Linked DNA regions of Homo sapiens. The protein of the gene in region 1 purifies or fractionates together with the protein of each later gene. This does not show direct contact. Each region holds a gene or a part of one and is shown on either strand. Other genes may lie near its edges.

Region 1 (3,820 bases):
GTGAGCCAAGATCGTGCCAAAAAAAAAAAAAAAAACAATAACAGTGCAAGGGAGTTGGGGGTTAGAGGGAGGTGATAGGGGAAGAGAAGGGATTGGAATGGGCAGGAGAGATCATGAGAGGAAGGAGGCAGATTGGAAAGGAAGCCAGGACTGAGGAGGTAAAATGAGGCCAGAAGATGGGAGATGTAACAAGTGGCTTTGGCCCAGACTCGGGGACTGACCTTGGAGGATCCATCCTCAGCTCTGATCTGGATCCTCAAGCTTTGTTTCTCCTACTGGCAGCCCCAGGCCCCACCACCTGTATCCACTCAGGGATCTGCCAGCCAGAAACCTGGATGGACTTCTGTCTCCCACAATCAGTCCACTAGGCCTTTCCTGGGGGCCCAGGGATAAAGGTTCTGTTGTGCTAGGGGCATGGAATTAGATATGGACTTGCCCTTAACATCTCAATGTTACAAGAATCAATCCTTAGACACAGACTGTCACAACACAGTGGTCTGGGGTTCCTATTATGATTAAAAAAAGAGTACAGTGACTGTGGGGCTCAGAGGAGGCACTTCACGCAGCTTGGACATTGGGGATCACTTTCTTCTTGGAGGAGGGGACATTGTTGCTCTGTGGTAAAGAAGGCTCTTTGTGAATGCCAGGCCGGCAACTTTTGATATTATCCAGAGGGCAATTTTTATCAAGAGCTTTGGAAAGATTTTAGGCAGGAAAGGGACATGATCAGATTTGTGCTTTACATATTTATTTATTTAGAGACAGGATCTCACTCTGTCTCCCAGGCGGGAGTACAGTGACCTGATCTTGGCTCATTGCAGCCTTGACCTCCTGGGCTCAGGTGATTCCTCGCCTCAGCCTCAGCCTTGGGTAGCTGGGACTACAGGTGCATGCCACCATGCCTGGCTAATTCTTATATTTTTTTTGTAGAGATGGGGTTTTGCCATGTTGTGTAGGCTGGAGATTTGTGCTTCAGAAGACCACTCTAGCTTCTGAGTGGAGAACAGCTTTAAGGTCAGGGGCAAGAGTAGGGTATAAGGAGGCTGGTGCAGTAGCTCATGCTCCTGGGGGAACCAGAGCCAAGATGCGGACTGTGAGCGTAGAGAGGAGGGATGGAGTCTAGAGAGGTGTAGAAAGTGGGATTGACAGCAAATGGAGTTTTTGTGCAGTTGGCATGGGGCGGGGGACAGTACGGTAGCTAGAGAAGGCATCTATAATGTGGGGGGACTTTTACCTGAGGCCAAAGGAATGAATCTTATGGTGAAATCTGAGGTGCCGTGCAAGGGGATTTTGGGGAACCCTGCTTTATACCATATGAGTTTCTGATCTACTGTCCTATCAGAAAGGGCTTATCCTCCCGTCTCTCAGTACTCTTAGCTCTGGGCACATGGGGAAGTTTGGGGTGAGCTGTGTACCCAGTTTCTCATAGCTCCTGATGTTGCTTGTTGCTGGTGCAGTCGATGAGTGGGGAACTTGTGTGCTGGAATGGGGCTGGCGGTAGGAGTACATGTACCTGATTGTGTGTATGTGTCTGTGTGTATATGTGCGTGTGTGTGTACATGATGGAAGAGACAGTCCCTGCTCTTAGAATCCCACCCCCATCCCTAATCTGAGAGAAGCTCATGAAGACAGGACCAGCAGCCACAATGCCCTAACTCTCTCTTCCTCCTGAGGCCTTCCCCAAACTCTGTATCATTTCTCCCCAGTACCTGTTCCCAACAGTGGTCAGGGTTCAGGGCCCTTGAATCCTTTAGGCTCTCCCAGTCAAGCTTTAGATGGTGGTCCTGTTTTCCTTAAAGTAGCTGAGACTGGGGAGTAGTTTTCAGATTGAATATTCCAGGAAGCAGAGGCAATGCTCTGACTAACTCAACTCAGAGTAACAGCAAGGCAGAAAAATCAAGTAAGGAGACTTGGAGGTTCCTGCGTCTCTCCCATAAGCAGACCTTCCCATGCTCTGTGGCCATGTAGCTCACAGCGTTTTTGCATTCTTTACAGGAAATTTTGTCTTCTGAAAGCCATCACTTATTGTACTTAACTGCATGCCAGATACTGCAGATGTTTTATACACGTTATATTTAGAATTCATATGGCTTGGCATGTTGGCTCACGCCTGTAATCCCAGCACTTTGGCAGGTGAATCACTTAAGGTCAGGAGTTCAAGACCAGCCTGGCCAACATGGTGAAACCCCATCTCTACTAAAAATACAAAAATTAGAGGCCAGGCGTCTGTAATCCCAGCTACTCGGGAGACTGAGGCAGGAGAATTGCTTGAACCTGGGAGGTGGAGTTTGCAATGAGTTGAGACCGCACCATTGCACTCCAGCCTAGGCAACAAGAGTGAAACTCCATCTCAAAAAAAAAAAGAAAAATTAGCTGCGTGTGGTGGCACCTCTAGTCCCAGCTACTCAGCAGGCTGAAGCACGAGAATCACTTGAACCTGGGAGGCGGAGGTTGCAATGAGCCAAGATTATGCCACTGTACTCCAGCCTGGGTGACAGAGCGAGACCCTGTCTCAAATAAATAAATAAATAAAGAGAATTCATAAACACCCTGCAAGGTAGGTGGTGTTATACCCATTTTACCAATGAGGAAATTGGAGCTCAGAGAGGTGAAGTGACTTGCTCAAGGTCACCCAGCTAATAAAGGCAGAGCTGGGATGCAGACTCAGCTTTGTGCAGTTCCTGAGCCTCTATGCTGCCCCTTCACATTACTCAGAGTGCATGTCTGAGCCTGGTCTCAAGCTATGATATCTCAAGCTATGGTATCTCAAGCTATGGCTTTGAGACCAGCATCTTCTCTCCCAGAGCTCTACATTTAGCTTCCTCTGACAGTGCAGAAGGGAATCCATCTCCTTTTTTGTGGAGGCTGTGAAGCCCCATGGCTAGTCTTGCCCCAGGCCTACCTGTGGGCTGCCCTATGAGCCGCCTGCAGCATTGCTCACCTTCTCAGCAGTCTGGCATCTCATTGAAAGAAAGGAATGATGGTCCTTAAGAACTCCACTTCCGAAGACTGTCCCTCCATAGTTAGAGCAAATTCATTCCCTTGCTGGGTTGCTGGGCTCTGGCACTGCGCTGGCCCTCGTTGGAGGTCTGCAGAAGTGCACAGAAAGTGTGGGCAATGGACTGGCCATTTCCACAGTTTTGGAAACTTTTAAAAATCCATATTCTTGCTGGGGGTGGTGGCTCACGCCTGTAATCCCAGCACTTTGGGAGGCCGAGGCAGGCAGATCACCAGAGGTCAGGAGTTCTGAGACGAGCCTGCCCAACATGGTGAAACCCCATCTCTACTAAAAATACAAAATTAGCTGGGCGTGGCAGCAGGCGCCTGTAATCCCAGTTACTTGGGAGGCTGAGGCAGGAGAATTGCTTGACCGCAGGAAGCGGAGGTTGCAGTGAGCCAAAATTGCGCCACTGCACTCCAACCTGAGCAACACAGCGAGACTCCATCTCAAAAAAAAAAAAATGCATATTCTGGCTTGGCGTGGTGGCTTATGCCTGTAATCCCAGCAGTTTGAGAGGCCGAGGGGGGTGGATTGTTTGAGTCCAGGAGTTTTAGACCAGCCTGGGCAACATGGCAAAACCCTGTTGCTACTAAAAAAAAAAAAAAATCCAAAAAATTAGCCAGGCATGGTGGTGGCTACTTGGGAGGCTAAGGTGGGAGAATCACCTGAGCCCAGAAAGTAGAGGCTGCAGTGAGCCGAGATCGGGCTATGGCACTCCAGCCTGGGCAACCGAAGTGAGACCCTGTCTCCAAAAACAAAAGCAAAAACAAAACGGCCGGGCGCAGTGGCTCACGTCTGTAATTCCAGCACTTTGGGAGG
Region 2 (3,820 bases), about 70 Mb from region 1:
TGCATCTGTATACAGTGCTCAGCATGTCACTTTCCTACTCATTATACCCCACGATCTGTTTGAGGCTGCCATCAGTTTTTTCATTTTCCAGATTAAGAAGACTAAAGCTGAGGCAAGTCAGATAACTTGCCCAGAGTCAAAAAATTACTGGAAAAGCAGTATTCAAAACTCAGTTTTCCGAACTTCAGAGACCTTACTTTTACCATCTTACCATGCTGTCTTCTAAACAGGTATTTATACCTTTTTATATCTGGATTATCTTGAGCCTTTCCCTTTCCTAAAACTTCTAACAATAAGAAAAATACTGGCCAGCTGCAGTGGCTCACACCTATAATCTTCGCACTCTGGGAGGCCAAGGCAGGTGGATCACTTGAGGTCAGGAGCTTGAGACCAGCCTGGCCAAAATGGTGAAACTCCATCTCTACTAAAAATACAAAAATTAGCTGGGCGTGGTGGTGCATGCCTGTAATCCCACTACTGGGGTGGGTGAGGCCCGGAACTGCTTCAACCTGGGAGGTAGAGGTTGCAGTGAGCCGAGATTGGTCCCACCGCACTCCAGCCTGGGCAACAGAGTGAGACTCCAATTCAAAAAAAAAAAAAAAAAAAAAACCCACAAACAAAAAACTGATCAGTAGTCAGAATATCTCTTTTCACAGTATCATACACCTATACAGTACTTTATAATTTTTAAACACATTGCCTCATTTTAACTCTTATAACTGAGACATAGGTAGTAGTATTATAATCTTCATTTTTGGATGGATTTTTTTTTAAACAAATTAAAGCTCAGGAAAGGGAAATACTTGCCCATAATCATATAGTGTGTTAGGAGTAGAGGCGGATGTCCAACTTGGGTCGGACTCTAAAGCTCATGCTTTCTCCGTTATACCTCACTATCTCAGGATGTTAACTGCCCTATCACCCTTTCTTCAGAAAAGGGTCCAGGGGTATAATTTCTTGATAACTTACCTTGCATCTGGCCAATGGTCAGATCTTTATCCAATCTATCAACACCTAGAAAACAAGAGAATTCATTGTGAAACAGATTTTGCTGTTCACGTATTAAGTAAAAAGTGTTACAAAGTTTTAAATATGATGACATTCTCCATTCATGTTTATACCAATCCTAACTCCCAGAGCATACTCTCACCACCAGATAAAACTTTTCAGGTTGAGATTCCCCTATAATTACTATGTTAAACTGGTTCTGAAAACAAGGTTTTACTATTTTAATTCTCATAATAATCAGAATATCCTTATACCACTGCATCTAGCTCTAGACTAAGAAGGACTTGAGCTTGACCAAGTAGACAGGCCAGGCCAGAATTAGGTCATCCTTTATGCTTAGATGAATGCTTATGCTTAGTTAGGTTTAGAGACTGGGTGTGGGGAGGAGAAAAGGCATAGATGAATGAGGAAGGTACTCTACTTTGGATGTCACTACTCATTTGGTGAGAAGTTTTAATGAGGTCATATTGAGATGACAATATACCAACACTGCTATGGACTGAGTTGTGTCCCCCTAAAACTCATGTTGAAGCCCCAATTCCCAATGTGACTGTATTTGGAACTAGGGCCTATAAGGACGTAACCTCAGGTCATGAGGGCAGAGCTCTGACATGATAGGATGAACGTCCCTAATTAATATCCTTAAGAGAAGAGACACCAGAGAGCTCACATTCACTCTTTCTCGGCCATGTGAGGGCACAGAGAGAAGGCAAGCCAGGAAGACAGCCCTCACCACAACCTGACCATGCTGGCACCCTGATCTCAGACTTCCAGCCTCCAGAACTGTGAGAAAATAAATTTCTGTTGTTTAAGCCACTCAGTCTATGATATTTGGTTATGGCAGCCTGAGCTGACTAATATATGCACATATACACTTACCAGCCAAGAGCAGCAATTTAGGAATGGGACAACTAAGAAAGAGATTGGATAAGCCTCGGAACCAGCCGTCCCAGTATTTTTCTGTTTTTGCCAGTTCAATTCTCCAGGTGTATGGATGGTCTTTCTTGGTCTGGAGGAATAAGAGCAAGTTCTGAGTCTCCGAGGGCAACCCCTGGAGGAACAGGATTAAAAACTAGATCCCTGGGAAAAGGAAAGGGAAGGAAACTAGCACTTATTAAGGACCTACTAAGTCCTAGACATTTTAATATACATTCAATCCTTCCAACAGTCTTGTTGTATGGGTCACTGTTAATATTCATTTTAAGATAATTACAAGTTTACTTTTTATTGCTATTAGTTTCTGTGAATTTAGGAAACTTTCTTAAGATCACAAAGCTAGTAAGTGGTAGTGCCAAGATTAAGCCTTTCTTATACTTGGTTGGCAAAAGGATGTTTCATCAAAAGAATAACTACAAAGAACATACTGCAGTATGAAAAAATGCTTATAATATAAGCAAGAAACAGATTACAACATGTCATCTAAGTTAGGATTACTACTGGAAAAATGTGGTATAGTAAAGTACTAAAAAGGAAAACTGAAAATAGGTTGATTTGTCAGTAGAGCATTTTTTCTTATATTTTATGATAATGATATAATGTTCCTGCAATAGTAATTTTGAAAGGAAATATGAGACAAATATGACAAAATGTCAACATTTATTAAATCTTTATTGTAGATAAGCACAGAGTATGCAATCAAATATTGGCTGAAAAAATAAATAATTCTCTATATTTTTCTGTACCATTGAAATATTTGAAACATTATAATTGAAATAAATATACTGAATCAACCACAATATGAAAATCTAAAAGTGAACATGAGATAGTAACATATTATCTTAAAGATCACTGGATGCTTAAGATGTCCATACTACCCAAAGTAATCCACAGATTCAATATAATCTCTATCAAAATTCCCATGGCTTTTTTTTTTAGGAAATAAAAAAAATCACCTTAAAATTCATATGGAATCTCATAGACACTGACTAGCCAAAACAATTTTGAAGAAGAACAAAATTGGAGAACTCACACTCCCCAATTACAAAGCTGCAGTAATTGAAACAGCTTAGTACTGCCGTAAAGACAAATAGACCAGTGGAATAGAATAGAGAGCCCAAAAATAAACCTTCACATAAATAGTCAAATGATTTTTGACAAGACTGCCAAGACCACTCAATGGGGAAAGAACAGTCTCTTCAACAAACAGTACTGGGATAACCAAACAGATATGCATATTCCAAAGTGAAGCTGGGGCCTTATCCCATATCCAAAAATTAACTCAAATGGATTAAAGACCTAGTAAGACTAAGACTATAAAACTCCTAGAAGAAAACATGGAGGAAAAGCTGGACAGTAGACTTGGTAATGATTTCTTGGATATGACACCAAAAAGCAGTGAACAAAAGCAAAAATAGACAAATGGTACTATGTGTATGGAATGGGAGAAAATCTTTGCAAATCATATATCTTATAATGGATTAATATTCAGAATATATAAAGGACTCCTACAATTCAGCAACTAAAAACATCGAGTAACCTGATTAAAAAATGGTCAAAGGGCTTGAATAGACATTTCTCTAGAGGTGATACAGAAGTGGCCAATAAGCATATGAAACGATGCTTAACATCACTAATCAATAAATAAATGCACAGCAACACCACAATGAGATACCACCTCACCCCCATTAGGATGACTACTATCAAAAAAGAGAAAAATAAGTGTTGGTGAGGATGTGGAGAATTCGGAAGGAACCCTTGTGTACTGAGTTGTAAAATAGTTCAACCAATAAGAAAAACATCAAGGCAGTTCCTCAAAATATTAAAAACAGAACTACTGTATGATCCAGGAATCCCACTTCTGGGTACATATCCA

The links.
Region 2: the proteins of PGAP2 (region 1) and PPME1 purify together in Homo sapiens (affinity purification with mass spectrometry; one large-scale study listed by BioGRID and IntAct). This does not show direct contact.

What each region holds. Positions count from the first base shown.
Region 1 is NC_000011.10:3,818,309-3,822,128, forward strand, and holds part of PGAP2 (acyltransferase PGAP2), read left to right. Parts: intron 1-3,820.
Region 2 is NC_000011.10:74,244,273-74,248,092, reverse strand, and holds part of PPME1 (protein phosphatase methylesterase 1), read right to left. Parts: exon of another isoform or gene 2,598-3,820; intron 2,060-2,597; coding exon of another isoform or gene 2,018-2,059; coding exon 1,888-2,017; intron 1,015-1,887; coding exon 970-1,014; intron 1-969. UniProt on the Homo sapiens protein: Demethylates proteins that have been reversibly carboxymethylated. Demethylates PPP2CB (in vitro) and PPP2CA. Binding to PPP2CA displaces the manganese ion and inactivates the enzyme.